Regions from separate parts of the Homo sapiens genome. Here all the other regions are reported to be linked to region 3. The links are microRNA targets in miRTarBase. Many come from high-throughput screens and were not tested one by one. Region 3 holds a microRNA gene; each other region holds the end of a gene's coding sequence.

Region 1 (7,101 bases), not on the chromosome of region 3:
TGTAGTCCTAGCTACTCAGGTGGCTGGGACAAGAGGATCACTGAGCCCAGGAATTCGAGGCTGCAGTGAGAGCCACGATTGTGCCCCTGCAGCTTTACAGGGAATCCTTGTCTCTAAACAAATAAAAAATGTCGGCCAGGTGCAGTGGCTGACACTTGTAATCCCAGCACTTTGAGAGGTCAAGGCATCGTTTGAGCTCAGGTGTTCAAAGCCCACCAGGGAAACATGGTGAAACCCTTCCTCTACAAAAATTAGCTGGGTGTGTTGGTGTGCACCTGTGGTCCCAAGTACTTGGGAGGCTGAGGTGGGAGGATCACTTGAGCCCAGGAGGCAGAAGTTGCAGTGAGCCAAGATCTTGCCACTGCACTCCAGCGTGGGTGACAGAGGCAGACCCTATCTCAAACAAACAAACAGAAAGATTTCACGTGAATGCATGTAAAACTACTTGTCATTAGTGGTTATTTAATAGTGCAATGCTAGACCATGAATTAGAACCCCATATATACTCCTCTAGATAAACCACCTGCAGGGACTACTGACATAATTACAATGGGCAAAACAGACTAGGTGACCTCTAAAGCCCCTTCCACATATTACTACTTCTACTGAGAATCTTCCTATTTCCCATTTCCTCTCAGCTTATCACATTTGATAATTCACATAGTATTTTGTATTTATGTCTAATGATGTTCCTGAACTCGTGTAATTTTTTTTGCCACCATTAGATGATCAGCTAACAGAAATACATGTATTTTTTTGAGATGGAGTTTTGCTCTTGTTGCTCACGCTGGAGTGCAGTGGCGCAATCTCGGCTCTCTGCAACCTCCACCTCCTGGGTTCAAGATGCTGTCTCAAAAAAAAAAAAAAAAGTAGACAGACTCAGGAGTGTCATTTAATTCAAACAACATGGCTTGAAAAGAATTTTTATTTTTGTTTCTAGAAATTATCTTCTTTACCTGGGTATTTTAGACTGCCATTCTTTAATTTCGCCTTCATGACTCAAGTAATGAAATGCAAAGATTCTGTCAATTAAAAATGTAAGCATTCAAATGCAAATAAATTAACATAAATATTTCAGTATTTTACCATAATCACATTACAAAAAATCTATCAGTTTATCAAAAAGTGTAAGTTCACTTCGCTCTATAGTATGATTGTTATATTAGTAGCTCCTGGGTTTGGTATGTATCTCCCTGTTTTCTTCTTGACAGCTAGACTGTTTCTTTGCCTGCTTGGGATTCCTTCTCATACCCTTTTATCTCCAGTGACATTCACAAATCAATCCCTCATCATCTTTTGTTGAGCAAAACTATTTCTCAATTTCATACTTAACAGAAGACTGAAATACAACCCAGAGAAGTTTGTAATCAATTTGACATAAAACCTCTCAGCAGTCTTTTGGGTATAAATTGGGGATATCATAAAACCTGTTAAAAAGAGTTGGGAAAATAAGCCTCATCTAAACATTGTATACCTGCTTACACTTATTTGCATTAAATTTATTCCATTAAAAAGGAGAAAAAAAGATAGTGTCTAGTTCAAATTGGCTCTCAAGCTAAATGTTTTCTCAGTTTTTCTACTATATCTAGTATTCATGGCAGATTAATACCTGAAACAGCACGCTTCACAAAATAATCATTAGCTTACACTTACATAGTTTACAGGGAAATGCCATAATAAGATTCAGAATAAGTTACAACATAAAGTTATCTACAGAAAAAATTTTCAGGGCTGGATGGAAAAAAAGCCTAGAATATTAGGGCTTTCTCAGACATAATTTTGCAAGATTACATTACGTTCATGAGTTACGTGTATTTGCCTCAAAAAATGTTTTTCTCTTTAAAATCTACTTAAAGGAAAATTCAGCTGCATTTATGTAGTCTGTTAGGATAAAATAATACTGAATAGACACCTTAAAGTGCTAATCAAAATGTAGTCTTGGATCAGTTGGCAATGACATTAGCTGGGAGCTGTCCAGAAATGCAAAGCCTGCGGCGCCACCCCAGCGCTGCTACTTCAGTGTCTCTATTTCTACAAGCACTCCTCAGATGATTTGGGGTCACATTAAAGTTTAAGAAAAACAACTTCAAACTTACCTTTCTTCCTTGTGAACAGATGTACATACTTTATTTTTAGGGACAAATAAAGAAAAGTAGTATTCTACTACTTTTTTGCCAGATCAAGACTGGTTCTTAAGATGTTCACGCTTTGGCCAGGCAAGGTGGCTCACGCCTGTAATACCAGCACTTTGGGAGGCTGAGGCGGGTGGATCACCTGAGGTCAGGAGTTTGAGACCAGCCTGGCCAACAAGGTGAAATCCTGTCTCTACTAAAAATACAAAAAATTAGCCAGGTGTCGTGGTGGGCACCTGTAATCCCAGCTACTCAGAAAACTGAAGCAGAATATCTCCAGAACCCGGGAGGCGGAAGTTGAAGTGAGCTGAGCTCGCGCCATTGCACTCCATCCTGGGCGACAAAAGCACAACTTCCTCTCAAAAAAAAAAAAACCCCAAAAAAACAACAAAAAAAGACTTTCATGCTCTTTATATAACAACTTGAAATGGCAAAATGAATTCATACTGTATAAGGTTTTCAAACTAAAATTAATTTATGAGATTATGGTAAAATTAACCCACAAAGTTCAAGCAACTTAATAGAAATTTCTTATGTGTATTTTCAGACACTAGAATATGCCTGTTTAATGTCTAATTCTTTATATATACAATTCTAAAAATCAACCAACTCTGACAATCTAAAGCCTTTTACTGAAGCTTGGTTACAAAACATGATTTAAACTGGCATTAAGCGATTAACAGTTTCTACCACATTTACTGTAACAATTTTCACTCTGCTGCAGAAACTTTAATATATGAACTTGCACAAATTCATATATTTAGTTGAGGTCCTGTCACAAACCTCACTGGAGATGTTATGCAGTACAGAGTACATCTCCCCAAAGGTTTCAGATTACGACATCTCCCTTGTTTTTAGAGTGGCCCTTTAAGATAAGTACAGTTGACAGAGCAGGAGAAGAAACGAAGCAAAGGAAATCAAATCTACCTGAATAAACCTTCATGTTAATAGTGGCTAAATAAAAACAACACAATATGATGCTTAAGAACAGTGCAGTATGTTAAGAAAAGACAGACACAATAAACTCCTCGAACAAGGTCTTAGGCTGGGGGTGTGTCTAAGAAAAGACTGAAAAATTAACGAAAATGGCAAGGGGCATCTTTTCTGAAATTTTCCGTTGAGAAACCAGAATTTAAAATAAAAGAGACATTTCCATAGATGTATAGTAGATTCATCCAAAATAATGTAAATGGCTTCCTTGACCTTTAGATACCAATAGTCATAAAAATCAAGTCCATAAAAAGTTCAGCCCATATTTTTAACTTTTCTAGTATGCACCACACAATTACAACATGATGCCATTTATTTACATGATTCTGAAAGAATATGAGTCCCCAGGATCAAATATATACATTTTTAATATTTGAAATATTTACATAATGGAACCACATCAGGGTTCGAGGGTAAGAACAGTGTTTTCAAATGTCCTCTCCAGGTGTGTTTAAAAAAAAAAAAAATCCAGTAATCCAAAGCTCACATTATGCTTTTTCTAACAGGCCAATCTTTACCTTTCTTTTAAATAAGTACTCAGACATGGGAACAGTTGCATCTAATTTGTGTGAAAAGCTGTTTAAAACTTCTTACGTTTTCAGGTAATTTTACTCCCTGGTGAAATTCTGATCTACAACGAAGAAAGCCCCAGGAATTTCTCTAAGCACATCATCAGTACATTTTTAAACACTAATGAGCCAAGGTAAAACAAGATATAAACCTTCTACAAGACAAAAATGAAAACAAATAGTTAGTGGTTGGTAACTGCCTTGAATGATTTACCTTTATCCTTAAATAACATGTAAACTTACAAATTGCCGAGCAGAATACCTATCATGTTTGTAAAACTCTCACTGTCTGTCAATTTGCCTAATTTTATTTCATTTTTTTGTTTTGTTTTAAAGGGGGTTTTCACTTACACTTTTTGGTATGATGAATTTTTTGTTAAATAAACAGATACAATAGAATTAAACTAAGGACCAATTAGTGCAAAAATGCATTAAATACAGCTCTCCAGGATTTTTAGGATATGCCTCATTTCTGAGCAATAAAATTAAAAGGAAAAATCACTATGATCCACATTCCTTTAAAAGAGAAGCTGAAGCAGCCATCTTATTAATAAGAAAACCCCATCCAGTTAGCAAACCACATTGCTCACGACACGAGAACACCATGCTCTGGGAAACTAATAACCTAATTATAACAGACATTTCAGGTTGGAACAGTACCACTTTTCCTTTACAATTCTATTCTTTAGTTGGGAAATGTTTTAAGGACCCCACCAAAGCAAATTAGGGAAAAGAAAGACTTTTACACATACATTCACAAACACATTCATACAGAAATACAGTAGGAATGGATTGTCTGCTAATTTTTGCATTCCAATTTTAAACTCCATGCCTTCACAAGGGCTTGCCATTTCTGATCAAAAGAGAGTGGGGGTGGTAATAGTTTATGACTGGTGTTTTCAATTAAAATTGTTCATGTTGGTTCCTATACAGTACATTTCAATATTAAGTGCAATTCTGCAAAATAATTGGGGAGTCGTTTTAATATTTACAAGAAACAAATCAGCAGAACAAGATTATATCAGATAGGCTGTGTACAGTAGCTGCGGCTTATAAAACATACCAGTAATTTGTACCTGGTGAGTATAAAGAGAACCAAGGATTCAGATGACTTTACAACCAAGGGAGTACACAGGGCAACAACAAATTAGAGGACCAAAAAATTCACATTTTCTACAAAAAAAAAAAATTACAGATCTCACAATGTCTTCAAAGACAAAGAAAAATTCAAAGTCCTTAAAAGGGTGGCAAAGAAGAAATCTGAAATGGAACTCTAAATATAAAAAGTTTTACTTCACAAGACCAATTTTCTTGGCTTCTGTTTCATATATCAATAATCTCCACATTTTGACTATAAAAACTTCTGCTTCTTCATCAAGTACCTAAAGAGGAAACAAAACAGCAACACATGTAAGAGAAGCAATCATCAACATCTGCCAAAAACAGTGGCCAGTATAAAAAAGTTTTTCATCCACTGACAATAAGCACTTATTACTTAAATGCTAGTTAAGATTTTAAGGTTGTTTTAGTGGCCGGGTGTGGTGGCTCACGCCTGTAATCCCAGCATTTTGGGAGGCCGAAGCGAGCGGATCACAAGGTCAGGAGATCAAGACCATCCTGACTAACATGGTGAAACCCCATCTCTACTAAAAATACAAAAAACTAGCTGGGCATGGCAGCGTGCGCCTGTATTCCCAGCTGCTGGGGAGGCTGAGGCAGGAGAATGACGTGAACCCAGGAGGCGGAGCTTGCCAAGATCGCGCCACTGCACTCCAGCCTGAGCAACAGAGCAAGACTCCATCTCAAAAAAGAAAAACAAAAAAAACAAAAAAGTTTTAAGGTTGTTTTGAGGGGATACATGAGATTCTGTATTGTTATTACATAGTTGTATATTTAGTTCTTCTTAAATTACTACGTTCTTTATAATACGTATTTGTTTTCCTTAGGAAGTAGTTTTGCTTTCAGTAAAATGACTTAAAGAAAATTTGTCCAGTGTGAGAAATGTATTATTAATAAATAGTAAATGGACCGGGCACAGTGGCTCACACCTATAATCCCAGCACTTTGGGAGGCTGAGGCAGGTGGATCACCAGAGGTCAAGAGTTCAAGACCAGCCTGGCCAACATGACGAAACCCCATCTCTACTAAAAATACAAAAATTAGCTGGGCATGGTGGCCGGCACCTGTAATCCCAGCTACTCGGGAGGCTGAGGTAGGAGAATCGCTTGAACCTGGGAGGCGGAGGTTGCAGTGAGCCAAGATCATGCCACTGCACTCCAGCCTGGTCAACAAGAGCAAAACTCCGTCTCTAAATAAATAAATAAATAGTAAATGTAAATTAACAACGACAACAAAAAAAAATCATTCAAAATTCCATGGCTTACTAAACACAAAGAGTACCATATTTTTGTGATCCACCTTTTATTCTTTTATTTTACCTTTACAGATACTGCAATTATACATGTCTGACAAAACTACTTCCCAAGGAAACCATACGCTTTTCATAAAGAACACAGTAATTTAAGAAGAACTAAATAATATACAATTACATAATAACAATACAGAATTTCATTTATCTCCAAAAACACAACCTCACAAACTTTTTTTTTTTTTTTCTGGAGACAGGATCTCTCTTGTCACCCAGCCTGGAGTACAGTGGCATGATCATGGTGCACTACAGCCTTGACCTCCCAGGCTCAAGTGATACTCCCACATCAGCCTCACCAGTAGCTAGGACTACAGGTGTGCACCACTACTCCTGGCTACATTTTTGTGCTTTTTAGTAGAGACAGGGTCTCACTATGTTGCCCAGGCTGGTCTCAAACTCCTGGGCTCAAGCAATCTGCGCACCTTGGCCTTCCAAAGTGCTGGGATTACAGGTTTGAGCTGCTGTGCACAGCCCAACCGTACCATCTTAACTAGCATTTATTGTGTATGTGACACTAAAGTGAACATTAAATGAGAATATAAGTATTTAGTACAGTGTCCAGAATACAGTAAACACAATAAGCAAATACAATCATCACGGGGCACACATGACTACTGAGTAACAAGTCTTCTTCCAGTGGTGGATGAGGAAATTGTCTTCCTCTCTACTTATGAGTTATAGGGTCCTTGTGTCCCCATCACTATTCCTGCCATCATCCCATACACACATCTGCCCCTCTACATTATGGCTGCTATGAGGTGAAATGGCCTACTCTGCTCCCTTCTGAAGGGGGCAGCTATGACTGTGCTCCAGAAATGTGGTCTAGTGTTGCCAGGTCTTCATAGAGGAAGTTTGGGGTAGGAATTTAGAGTACTCAATCTCTAGTCAGACTACATTGGTTCAAATTCTCTAGTCAGGCTACATAGGTTCAAATTGCACTGCTGCCTCTTACTAGCGATAGGTCCTTGGTTGGGTTACTTAA
Region 2 (7,101 bases), not on the chromosome of region 3:
TCTTATAACCAGTCTCTCTCTTTAATATGAAGGCCCAACATTACATAATTCTTTTTAAGAGTTGACCAGGAATGAAATGTAACCTCTTTTAAAGATGAAGAAAAACTGAAAAAATGAGATTAAGAAAATATGTGGGTAGTTTACAGCTGCTGATAGAATTGTGTGCACGCGTGCATGCATGCATAAACACAAAGTGAATCTAGAAGGGAAAAAATTGAGTTTGATGAAGTCTAAGATGAAAGGTTCCATTTCATGTAAGATTATGTGACCTTGGAAAAATTTACTGGCTTGCTAGTGGAATACGTCCTTATATAGGGACTTGAAGAGTTTATCTAAATAGACTGACTTAAGGATGCTTTTCCTCTTGTTAGACTTGTATGACATTACTGAGAAGATTTAGAGTTCTAGAAGTAGAGAAGACTGATTAGCTTGTGCCTGTGTATGAAGAATGACAAATTAAGACAAAAGGTTATGTAAACCATTTACTAAAAAAGTCTAAATTTTTATATTCCTAGGCCCCTACTTATCTTTTACAAACTTTGAAGGACCTGAAATTCTTTGGACACCATCAGATTTAGTTTATAAGAGTTCTGATTTTGAATCAAGAAATTATTCATGTAGTTTTAAAACACAATTAAAATTTTCAGTCAGGCTGAACTTTTGTGCACTTCCTCATTTATTCGAGAAACCCCACCACTAATGTATTTAGACCTTAATATGATGGCTTTGAGTCTTAAATCATTGTCCACCTAAAATAATATACCAAATAAAGATTTTTAAAGTGCTGCATATGGTTTCTGTAAGAGGTACATAATTAGATTACCAGCATTATCCTTTAGCTTCAAAAGTAAAACTCATAGTCAGGATTTTACTGATAGTACAGGAAGAAAAAAAATAACCACTGTTGAAAAATAAATGAAAAAAATTTTATTGAGTATTACTTTATACATGCAAATTGAAAGTGAATCTATATTAAGTTGACTATTCCACAATAAAAACCTATGAAATGGGAATGATCAAAGCTGTCTAACACAATACTAATGTGTTCAATAAATTATCCAGATGTTTTTCCACAAATATTTGGATTACCTGAATTAGCTGATTCTTCAGCAAAAGTTAAATTTTAGCTTTAATATGGTAGCAGCAGGATGCTACTTAAATTTAGAAGAAAAACATAAGAATAAAAACCCTGAATAGCATAGCCAAATCTTCCAAGAAATAAGTTCACCAAAAAAGTAGCATACACCTATTTGGTATCCAGAGGAGGAAACAAAACACAGGCACTTAATCAACATCCACCAAGTGATCATCACTAACATTCTATTATTACCAGAGTAACTGTCGATATGTGAACTGTAGATTAGAACAGACTTACATATCTAAAAACAAACCAGTAATCAATAATATATACAGAAATACTAACTTGAAGTCACATTTAAATACCATCAACAGTTTGGTGTATCTGATATAACTGAATTCATTTCATCACTGCTATAAATTCCTTAAAAGTGTTCTTTTCCTAATTAACATTATCTTTAAAAAATGGTAGATATTTCCCAGTATGCATCAGTTTTTTCACTCCACCATTCAGTAAATGTTGTAGCAAATTAAATAGAACCTATTAACTAGATCTAAAAACAGTGGCTGAATACTTAACACAAAGAAGTACTTTTGAGTAAACTATTCAGATTAGACAGGCTAATGCTAAGACTGCATTTTGTGCTACTGACATGCACTATATAGATCGTACACTACTAGATGGAAAGTTGGTCCATGTCCATTTATTTAAAGATTCTGTAACACCTGTAATAGTATTTAATACAGCTCCCACATACTATATTCCTCTCACATAGACATAGTTATTTTTAGTGGGGATAAGGATATGACTTTAACATGCTATGAGATTCTAGCTAAGTAAAATAAAAACAATATGGACTCAGATTTTCTTAGGAGATATTAGTTCAAGTTTTTAAACTGGGAAACAATCAACTTCCATATATCCAGGAGAAACTTAGCATGGGGGGAGGTGCCTTAGTTGATGTGCCTGATAAGCAAACTGTTAGTTGTCTATTAGTATTATGTTTTCGGCTTAATGTAACAACAAAAGAAAGTTGTCACACTACCTCTCAGATAATATCAATTACAATCTTAGAGACTGTAATTGGGAATACAATCCTATAACAAGTTATTAACAATATCATGAATAGTTATTAAGTAAGTGCCAGCACTACATGCAACTTACTGGTCACCAACTCAGAACCCATAAAACTATACACATATGCACAAAAAAAAAACTCCAAAGAAAGATACCTATCACTGTACATATGAATACTGTCCAGGATATCAGATCAATTATCAAATCCAAGGTCTCTGCTGTTTTGTCTTACAGTGTTGAATATATGAATGCTTCTCTATTACACTGACTTGTACTATTTTCAAGAAATTAAGTGGATTCAAAATCTTACATTTTTATTTCTAATTATAAAATCCAGATTAATCCAAAAAACACAAACCACATGTAACCGAGGTAGGTTTTTCACCTTAAGAATACATTGCTTCTACCACAATTAAAAATTTTTTAAACTGAAGAAAAAAAAAAACTACATTGCTCCACATACCTGATACTTAATTTTCTATGTTTGAAACTACTTGAACAAGTGTGACAGTGCTAATCTACTATATTTAGTAAATCCCTTAGTACCTATAAATACACACCCAAAAGCCCTTCCCTCCTTCTCTAATGGTAACTGTTGTATAATAAAATTGTCAACAACTCTAGAAAGATGAAATAAAGATTACTATAGCAATCTTCAATTAATTCATTTCAGAAATCAAGGAGGCAAGTCATGTTCATTTTAAAGATGACAAACTTACTATTTTGAAAATGAGCTCATAAATACATTAGAACTTTGAATGTGCTTTATTATGCCACAAATTCCCAGGAGATTTAAGAAATAGTATTTCTGAACAGGAATAATAATTTCACAAATACTAACACTTTATTGACAATAGACAAGTCTTTTAGGGTAGTGCACATGTACTTAAAAACTACCTTCTACCAATCTCAACACTTTTTATAAATTTTCAGGTGAAACTGTAGCAGATCCTACTTTATTTTTCAATGGTTAGTGTAAAATTCTGTATGTAAAATAAGTACATATTTTGAGATGGAAGAAGGACTGCATGTGAAATGCTTTGCCTAAGTTGTAAGGCTCCTGTCTTTACGCTATCATTAAAGGCCAAAAAAATCACTGCTAGAAATGTTCCCCAAAAAATTCTTAAACAGCTCAGTCTTTAAAAGTATTAATAATTTTTTTTTTTTTTTTTTTGGAGACAGAGTTTCGCTCTTCTTGCCCAGGCTGGAGTACAATGGCGCAATCTCAGCTCACCGCAACCTCTGTCTCCTGGGTTTTCAAGCGATTCTCCTGCCTCAGCCTCCTGAGTAGCCAGGATTACAGGCATGCGCCACCACACCTGGCTAATTTTGTATTTTTAGTAGAGACGGGGTTTCTCCATGTTGGTCAAGCTGGTCTCAAACTCCCGAACTCTGGTAATCCACCCGCCTTGGCCTCCCAAAGTGCTGGGATTACAGGCATGAGCCACTGCACCCAGCCTAATAACTGATATAATTTTTTTAAGTGAAATGAAATGTTCCTTTATTTACATATGAATTAAATAGAAAATTCAAAGTAATTCTTTTAATAAAAACCCATATACTAATATATTTTAAGGTTGGATACTAACAGCATTTTCACAAGATCCAAAGTGTGGATGACGAACTAGGCAATAAGGACATGTGTGCCACATAACTAAGGGTAACTAAAGGAAGATGAGTACCTCACAACCAAAAGCAGTTAACTATGCCTGGCATACCACCCTGTCATGTGGGCAGATCACTGTTCCCATGCTGGGTAAGAGTCTCCAAGAAGGGAAGCCCTTATGCAGTAATTCTGTAACTATATTAAATTTGGTAATCTAACATTAAACTTTTTCGTGAGCAGTGAATATACACATGGTCATATGAAAACTGCCCTGGAGACCGGGTTAATTATTAAATAAACTAAAAGGGGAGAAATGCTGATAGATAAAATTATGTCAATTCCAGGGTGTTCAATGGAATAAAGAAACAGCAGCAGCTGCTTCAAAAGTAGACTATGATCAGAAACCTCAGATGGTAACCTTTAAAAATTGTGGAATCCAGAGTCTCAACCTAAACCTACATAGGAGCTACAGCCAGGGAGTTCTTTCTAAGTTCCTCAAGTGATTCTGATGATTGGCCAAGCTGGAAACTTCTGAACTGGGGGAGAAAGCCAACCTAGGTAAATGTAGAGACTTTTAGAATTCAACATTTGATTATCATTTACTCCACATTTTCCCCCAGCTGTCTCACCTTCTCTATTTTTCTAACAGTGAACAATAAAAGGGCTTGGCAAGTGAAGGAAAAAGTCAGTAGAGTACCTAAAATGGATTTGACTATATTCAAGCCACTTTCATATATTAACTAGATAAAAGGATACCATACTGCTATTTGAAATTCAATCACAAAGCAAAAATGTCATAATTTTAATGTATTTTAAGGGAAGACGGGGTTCTTAACATGAATATGTAATACAAAAACAATTCTAAATAATAATATTTAATAGAAGAAAAAATCTGTATAATTATTTAGAAGTAACTCTGTTTTTAAAATTTCAATGTTAGGAAGAAAATCCCTTAAATTTGAAATAGCGGAATATTCTCTCATATGAAAAAACTGTGTCCCAGTGTTATTCTTCAACTTAGAAATTAGGCAAAGTATTTTAGTACTATTTCTGCTTACATATTGTTTTGTATGAATGTTTTAAGTATGAATAATATTTTGGTTTTTAGTGTGCATGCTAATATAAAAATATGGATTTTTTTCTCCTACACTGACTTTGTACACTTTCCAGGCCCGAAGAATAAAAAACTTTTAAAATATCCTGTGTTCACTAGCAAACCTTGGAACGATAAAAAAAGGTAGTACCTACATAAGAAATTTTACATTGAAATTACAATTGTATGTTTTTCAGGAGTTAAAGTGATTCAATTTTTCAATATTCAAACACAAAATAGTAAATTTTTATTTACTATAGCACAATTCAAGTATTCTCTTAAATTTATATTTAGTCAACTAAAACATGACAGTGACTTTATAAGAGCTTTCCTTTTAAAAGGTTGCTGTTATAAAAAAGTATGACTCTATTACTCTAAATGCTTAGAATAAGTGGAAAGAACAAATGACAGTAGACAAAAACCTTTATGAGTGAGTCATCAACACATAAAAGGTTGCACACATCAGTAATAGGACATGTGAAGGTAACATCCCAAAAGTATTTGAACTCATGTAAACAAAGACTATGTATATTCCTAAGGGAGAAAATGTACTACCAAGATAAAATATATTCAAACGGCTGTGACTTTAAACCATGTATTAGTTGAATACCACACAAAACCAAAAAGGCATTATCTATCATTTAATAACTGAAAGATATTACTTATTTGTGAGATAAAAGGATAATGCTTTTTTAAAACCAATAATGAAAAAGAAGTATTTTGAAAACAAACATCTGTTTGCTAGAAATAAATATACTTGCTTAGTTATTTTAATGTATTGCAGCATAGGAATATTGTGCTAGCATTGACCATTAACATTCAATCAGTAGTTTAAAATATTTTTTCCACATTGAGTCTTGAATCCTCTACCTGGTCAGCTGACCCACAACTTTCAAAAGAGTTTTATTTTCCTGCTTTAGCTGTTCATTTTCATCTTCTATGTCATCTAGGTCCTTAAGAAAAAAAAAAGACACTTTAAAAATACTTAAAAATATTTGAGGAGAGATGAAAACACTTAATACACATTAAAAATAATTCATACAACCAATTAATTTTGAAATGAGGGCAAGCTCTGAAAACAACTTTAGATGTAATATGCCCCACCAAAAAAGAGCATCCATTACTTGACTCTTCGTTCTTACAACAAGTGTATAGGCCAACTCTTACAGATCTTTCAGTTTTTCAAAGGAAGCCGAAAGTCAGAATTTTAAAATTGTGAATCTTCCAATTTTCAATCATCATAAATAAGTTAGTTTTTTAGCTAAACAAACTCCACTTCCCCTCCCTAAAACTGAGGCAAAAAAAAAAACTACCCATGCAAGCCATATATGGTATTGAGCCCTAGGTTGCAACCTTGTGTCAAATTAGTCATCAAAAGGTGCAGGTACAAGTTCTAGATGCACTCCTACCACTGTCTGATCTTTAAAGGTGTACAATGGGGATAACACTCTGGAGAGGTGACAAAACTGAGGCCTACGGAAAAGGGGATCTGGAGTATCTTGATCTGGATCAATTTTGTTTTCAGCTCCAGATCAATTTGTATGTTGGACTTTTCTACGACATTTTGAAGGAAAGGTTTTAGAGCTAAAATTAATTCAAAGCCACTAAATTAAGTATTCGCTCTCCAGCTTTAAAAGCATATGATCCAGCTCTTTTTTCCCTGTATTAATCCTTGTCCCAAACACACAACCATCTGGTTAAAACAAATTCACCATAAGTTTTAGTTACAAGAAACATTATTTCAAGACAGACTCTTTACTGTTAAAAAAGCAGACATTTATAGATTTATTCTTGCAGTTTAAAATAATAAATCTTGATGTAATCAATTTGAATCACTTGAACCCGGGGGGTGGAGGTTGCAGTGAGCTGAGATCGCGCCACTGAACTCCAGCCTGGGCAACAGAGAGAGACTCCTTCTCAAAAAATAATAATAATAATAATAAAGAGTACCAATTTTAGGGTTTTTTTTTTTTTTTTTTGAGACAGAGTCTTACTCTTGCTGCCCAGGCTGGAGTGCAGCAGCGCAATCTTGGCTCACTGCAACCTCCGCCTCCTGGGATCAAGCAATTCTCCTGCCTCAACCTTCTGAGTAGCTGAGATTACAGGTGCCCACCACCATGCCCAGCTAATTTTTCATATTTTTAGTAGAGTCGGGGTTTTACCATGTTGGCCAGGCTGGTCTCGAACTCCTGACTTCACGTGATCCGCCCTCCTCGGCCTCCCAAAGTGCTGAGATTACAGGTGTGA
Region 3 (7,101 bases):
AAAAATGTTTTCACATTTCATCTACAAATTCTACTGGCACATTTTACATTTGCATTAGTTTCCATTTACTATTGAAAATGGATAACACCTACACACTCATATACCTCTTTATCAGCTAGGATTGTTTTAACTGTATTATGATTCTAAAGTTTAGAAGTAAACAAAACAAATAATCTAATTTCCAAAAAATACAAATATGAAATCAACTTTGCCTTACTCTTAAGAATCATGAATCATGTTATTAAAAAATAGACATAGTTCAATAAATATGCTTTTTTATTTGATTCTTTCAGCTAAATTTTATTGGTGCTGTGTACACTGCCAGAAATTTATCCCATCTATTCCATGGAACAAACAAAATATGTTTTCTGCTCCTCATAATTGACCATAATCTCCTTAAATTGGTTTCAACAGCAGATGACCTGTACAGGGCAATTCATGTTCACTAATGAAAAATCAATGTATTTCTTAGATATTTATCTCAGCACATTTGCATTTTGGTACAGATTGACAATAGTTTTTTTCAGTTTCAGTTAATCATCACCATCACAAGCCTCTCTTTTTCAAAGGTAATGTGGGTGTTTGAAAAGATCACTCTGTCACACTGTTCTTCCTAACTTGTGTTTATAAAGATTTCAATTTCTTTTGTGGCTATGACCAATGTTTTTAGTGGTGTTGGAATCTGCGAATTTTTAATATCCATGTTCTGCATAGAGATTTTTTTTTCTTTTTTTGAGGAGACCTAAAAACATCAGCCTGCACTGACTTTCCTTTTTCTAAATTTAGGAATGCTGCTTAATTTCTATCATACCCGTTGAAATTTCAATTCTAAGATTGAAGTTTCTCCAATTGTATTGATGGCAGAAGTGGTGTTATGTACTCTTCTATATGTGCTAGTTTCTAAACAAAACTCATCCCTATTAAGTTGACATGTATATTCCTGGCTCTTCATGGTGAATCCTCACTGTTTTCCATGTGTGTCATTGTATATGTCCTACACGACAGCACATCACTAACTGCTAAGCTGTCCAGCACAGAATCCAATCAAAATTCAGAGTTTGGAGAGAGTAGGGAGCAAAAATATTCAGGATGGCTACAGATACAAGGTAGAATTTGAATTGTATCTTGAGTGTGGGAAGTTTCTGCATAGGCACAAGGGGGGGTCGAGAAGCCTTTTGGGATGGAGGGACCTTTCCCACAAAAGTCTGGAGGTTGGAAATGACATGCATGAGCCACTGTGAGAAAACCATCTTGCCTGAAGGGGAGCATATTTGAGGGTAAGAAGGTCAGGACTTTGCTTTCAAGACTGCATTATCTGAATCTTCAGATAACAAAAAAAGAGTTAAAACTTGTTTTGTCACTTTGAGCAGGTTAGCAACCTCTCACTAGATCTGTTTCCTCAACCTAGGAAACGTAAAATAAGAAGAGCGGTAAGAATAATATTTATCATCTGTCATGTTGTGAGGATGAACAAGACAATAAACACCAAGTGTCAGGGACATGAAAGGTTCAAAACATTTTAGCTAATATTGTTAAAACATGGTATATAACATAATATATATGATAAAGATGTTTTGTAGATTTTTGATCAGTGAAGGTTGTGAAAGGAGAATTTTTAGTAAAATTCATGCAGCAGGCATCAGATGTCCACAGGTTAAAGTTGCGGGGTGGGGTGGGGGCAGCCAGGAAGTTGAAGGCCTGGCTGGACTAGATCAGTCCATGTTGGAACAAGAAAGTACCACTCTTAGCACCTTCTCAATAATAAAAACATGAAGGCATATTTGAATACAAGGAATGGGAAACAGTAATAGTCAAATAGCCCAGATAATTAGCCTAGATATTTGGGGAAAAAAATAGTTCCCAAGAAAGGGAAGATGCTGGGAAAGGAAAACCTTATTAGGGGGAACTTCTCCCCCTTGGTAAGTAAGTCCTATTTTGGGTTAGATTTGGAGATGGTAGCAAGCCATCCTAGTGGAAATATCTTGCAAAGAGAAGAGGGTGAATACTTATCATTATTATAACATTACTGTGATAACTTCAAATGGACACCAATTGTGAATAAGGTTGACACTACTCTTTAAACATTTTGTTGATTTCTAATTTTAATGTCTCTTGAATTTATGTCAGAAGAGAAAGTAATGAACCCATAAAAATGATTATAACTGTGCAAATCCTTTACCAGTGTAGCTGAACACAATTCTTTTGATATATGACACTTTCCCCACTGGTCTTCAGATCAGTCAGCAAATATTGATCAAACTTGATGAGCCCAACATTGTGCCAGATGCTGAGGATACAGTGCTGAATAAAATAAGTGTAGACTGTGCTCTCATAGAGCTTACAGTCTGGCAAGATGGACCAACACTATAAAATATATTTCTGATACTTGAAATTATGAACAATAAAGAATCATCAGTCATAAAATTCTTAGATATTCCTAATGGAATTGGAACACGATTTGCAAAATTTTTAAAAAAGAGTAATTTGAAGGGATTCCATGTTGAGGTTTCTTTTTTTAGTTTATTACTCAACTTTTGTATGAATATGTGTGTTTTAAAAATTCAATTACATATTAGGCAACCATCAAAACAAGAATGGATCATGATGCCTTCACAATAGAGATATTAATTATTGGTTCAACTTATACATTTATTTTAGATTCTTCTTTTGTGGCTCTAAAATCTTCAGTTAATATGAGAATGATCATTTGATGTATTATTAATTTCTGGACCATTTTCTCACCATCTTCAAATCGAATTAGAAGATGGAACATGATGTCATATATAAATCTTATCTGTCACTTGTATTAGATATGCTAAACACTGGGAAGTATTTTGTTTAAATCTGGCTTTCTTCCCAAAAGTAACATTCTGAATTCTCTTTTTATATGGCTGACAACCAACCAAGAGATTTTCTTGCTCTAGTTGGAAATTCATGGAAACCATAGGCAAATAGTATGTCCGAGGATAACAAGTAGAAAACCCTATGCTTGTATTTTCAATTATATTTTTATTTGCTTTAATGCAGTTTTAACATCAGTAACAGTGGAAATACGACAATCTGTATACGAGTAGTTATAATTCATGCTGATGAAAGTAGCTTCCATCTTATCATTCTTGCAATATTGAAACAAACTCCAGTGAACTTGTTTGAAGCTGGTTCAGTAGAGATTGTTTCAACACTGAAGGAATGAAAAATTAGAACCTCTGTTGTCAGATGAGCAGTAATAATCTGCATCAGTTCCTGGTCTGGTTCATATTTGAGCACTGAAGATGGAATTTTCCCAACAGTAGATGAATGTCTCAGTGGCCTTCTTCCTAAAATAACATACCCATTGGGGCATTACGTTTATACATACAGTCATCCCTTGGTATACTCAGGGGATTGGTTGCAGGACCTCCTGTGGATACCAAAATCTGAGGATGCTTAGGTACTTCATATAAAATGGTGTAGTATTTGCATATGTGGATACCAAAATCTGAGGATGCTTAGGTCCTTCATATAAAATGGTGTAGTATTTGCATATAACCTATGTACATCCTCCTGTATTATTTAAATCATCCCCAGATTATTTATACCTAGTACAATGTAAATATGATGTAAATAGTTGTTATACTGTATTATTTAGGAAATAATAAAAAGAAAAATAGTCTGTATGTTTACAATACAATTTTTTCCTGAATATTTTCTATCCAAGATTGGTTCAATCTATGGATGTACAACCCATGGATACAGAGGGCTGACTGTATAGATAGATAGATAGATAGATAGATAGATAGATAGATAGATAGATAGACAGACAGATAGATAGATATAAACATATAAATATATGTATATGTATGATTTTATGTATATTATATATATATAATTACAATCATGGAATTACTACTGCTTAAAAATAACACATATACAAATTTCATAAAGTTTATTAAATGTTAAACTTTTGCTGATAATTTTATACAAATAAGAATTGCTGGGAAGGTGGTATCATTTTCAGCAATACAGAGACAAAATAAAACCAGTAGTGATTGGATGAAACTACCAAACAATGTAAGAGACTTCAAATATCCTACTTATTATAAGTGTTATGTCTATACTACTTATTTCAGGGGGTTAAATAAAAATATGATTATATGTTCACATTCAGATAGAAATGAGATATTAAGGGCATATTGTTTTTCTGAATAAACATCAGTTTTCAAAGCTTTGCATATAAACCATCTTACATGATTTTTCAACATACAAACAAACAAAACTCTTAATTGTTGTCCCATGTAGCAGTTTAGCTGCCGTATATGTGATGTCACTCCTAAAGGTTCAAGTAAATGGCGTCACACATACGACCACCAAGCTGCCACCAACAGCAGTAGTCAGCAGCCCAAACATCATCAGTTTTTTTCAGTCGACAAATACTTTGAGTGCCTCTCACATGTCAGGCACTCTTCTAGGTTCTGGAAATTCAGCAGTGAACCAAACTGGCAAGCCACCTGCTCTCATAGAGCTTACATTCTTGATTTTATCCACACTAATCATGGAATCCACAGGAAAGGAATCTGATTTGAAATGGTCATATGCTTATGCAATTCCTACTGTGATGTAGGACAGTCAGTTTGCTTTTGGGTTACAGGCAGTTTCTAGAAGTACAGAGACAGTTACAGAGCTGTTCTTCATGGAACTTTGAGAAATGGTCCATCTCTGCAATAGTTCAAGCCCACTGAGTGTATGGACCCAAGCTGCTGTGCTGAAGGGAGAGCTTCCTATTGATTGCCACATGCAAAACTACTCTAAAAAGTATGTAAACCTAGAATCCACAAACTGATGCAACCAATGAGATTTTCATGTCACCATCCTTAATGTTGATAATGTATATAATTATTTTTGCTTTTCAGTTACTTACACATTTCAAAATAAGAAAGGACAAAGCACACTGTTGTAAAAAGTGTTAGCCCTGGTTTTCCCAGGTAAGATCAGATGCCTGGCTGGTGTACTGTGTAATTCTACTTACATTATATAAACAACGAAACTGCATATATCATAAATTCAAAGCAAATAGGTGAACATAGATAAGTAAACAAGTAACAATAACACCTGCTCTGAAGAACCTAATTTTTATGTCTTTGTTATTACCATTGGCTTTGTTGTCATCAGCATCGTCACTGGCATCTTTTTCTGAGAGCTCACTGTATACCAACTGCTGCTCTAAGCTTACTGTATACCTCGCAGGAGGGAGAGGAATTGAGTGGGTGGTTATGGTTAATGGAAAGAGGCTAATTGAAGGTGGTGACCCAAACTGAGACTTTAAAACCTATATGGAAATCGAGTTGATAGAGTTCAATAGTTAGTGTATTTTCACAACAATCTATTGTCTAAAAAGTAATATTTCGGATTAATTAGGAACATTGTCATTAAAATTTTTTTTCTCTGAGAAGTGTCAGTGTGAACATAATAAACGTTTTGAAGAAAATGGACATATCAAATTTTGTTTTATGGACAAATCCTCCAAATCAAATATATAATCCAAATACAGAGAGAGAAGCAAATTTCTCTCTGTCACAGCAAAGAGAGCACAAACCCATTTAAGTGCCCTGTTCAGTTATGCTTGCTGGTCAAGAGGTGCCCACAAGCCATAAAATGTTTCTGTCCATGGCTCATGCAAAGATGTGCATTTTTTTCAATATTTAAATTATAGACTACATTAGTAAAAGTTTTGAATAAAAATGACCTACGTTGCTTTTTGAACACACTACAAATTTTCTAAAGCCTTTGTAATAAAAAAGGTAATTAGATAATCTTCAAACAATTTTGTTAGTATTTAGTTCTTTCTTTAGTTTTTCTTCTGTCATGTTCAATATAATTATTTATGAAGCATGATTATTCAAAAATATTCACATATACCAGATCACTTAGGATTTCATTTGAGCTATGAAAAATAACAATATCAATAATATATAGCAATATTTTTACATCCATAGAAGACCACATAAGGCCTGGGTATTTACTGGCAAATTAAAATATTCTATTAGTTTCCATAGTAGTCTTGTTTAGTGTTTTTATTATATTTCCAGTGACATAAAGAAACCTGCATTTCCAAATACTAATTACTTTTAGAAAATTTTACTGTAATTTATCTAAAGAAATATTTAATAGGATAAAATGATAAGACAAACTGACAATAAAATAAGTTATACTCATTATCCAAATAGGTGCAAAAGGGTTGCATTAATAGTCATTCCCATACACCATTTATTTGATGTACAATATTACAAAATAAAAATTGCCTTACAAATTAAATTAACATTTATGAAATACTAGCAATATTTTTTTCTTGAATAATATAAAGACAAACAGTTTAGACAGACTTGTAGGCCTATAACTACACATTAATAAACAATGGAAATCCTCGAACCCTATGCAAGCTTTGTGTGGGTCAGTATGACAGTATGAGATATTGAGTGATCTTTGCTGCCAACTGTAATTTATTAGCAAATGTTACTCTGATGTGACAGAAAGGATAAGAAGCAAGGCAGCTCCACATTGATTTACGTAAAATTTACTCATCTCCCATTCATGTGCTATTGAAGCTGATGTGATGGTAGGTTAACAATGTTGACACAAATAATAGGCATTGATAGTGTTCTCTAAGATGATTATATTTCCGATTACTTGCTAAATCTTTTAGGAATAAAACAATATAGAATTACACAAACTGAACATAATTTAAAAGATTGGAGAAAGAGTTATAGAATAATAGTGGTATATAAAGACTTGAAGTTTCCATAGTCAGTTTTTGATGAAAAATACATTTGAAATCAATAGCCAGACTGAAAGAGTTCAGAAGTTTTAAAAGAATTGAACAGCCCAGATGTTTTAAAAGGATTGAACAGCCCAGAAACTATCATTCAAATCATAGTTTTGAACTAAGATTCAAAACATAGTTTTTTCAACATGAAAACATTTTACCTGAGAATATTATTTACCAACTATGTTAATTTCTAAGATAATATGGAGATGTCTAAAATTAATGCTAAAGTTTTGTAAACAAAACTCAAATTTCTGGGTAGACCACAAACACTAATTTAAATTAGAGACAGTTCAGAGGAG

Evidence for each region. Region 3 holds the annotated microRNA hsa-miR-653-5p (GUGUUGAAACAAUCUCUACUG, at 3,162-3,182, opposite strand). A microRNA usually pairs through its seed, bases 2 to 8, with sites in the 3' UTR of a target mRNA and lowers its output. Matches are read on the target gene's strand: a 7mer-m8 pairs with bases 2 to 8, a 7mer-A1 pairs with bases 2 to 7 and ends in A, and an 8mer does both.
Region 1: miRTarBase lists RBM25 as a target of hsa-miR-653-5p. Seed matches in the 3' UTR shown: 7mer-A1 at 1,297-1,303.
Region 2: the mRNA of PAWR is a reported target of hsa-miR-653-5p. Seed matches in the 3' UTR shown: 7mer-m8 at 2,390-2,396 and 7mer-m8 at 903-909.

The regions. Positions count from the first base shown.
Region 1 is chr14:73,117,685-73,124,785 of GRCh38, reverse strand. RBM25 (RNA binding motif protein 25) reads right to left here. Exons shown (of 19, transcript NM_021239.3): 19 at 887-5,073. The coding sequence ends at 4,981. Among named protein-coding and RNA genes, the nearest start is that of PSEN1, 15 kb to the left of the region's middle.
Region 2 is chr12:79,586,887-79,593,987 of GRCh38, forward strand. PAWR (pro-apoptotic WT1 regulator) reads right to left here. Exons shown (of 7, transcript NM_002583.4): 7 at 1-5,807. The coding sequence ends at 5,721. Among named protein-coding and RNA genes, the nearest start is that of PPP1R12A-AS2, 100 kb to the right of the region's middle.
Region 3 is chr7:93,479,662-93,486,762 of GRCh38, forward strand. MIR653 (microRNA 653) reads right to left here and starts at 3,194; the gene lies at 3,099-3,194. All of the region lies in intron 3 of CALCR (calcitonin receptor), which reads right to left. It overlaps MIR489 (microRNA 489), which reads right to left and starts at 4,358; the gene lies at 4,275-4,358.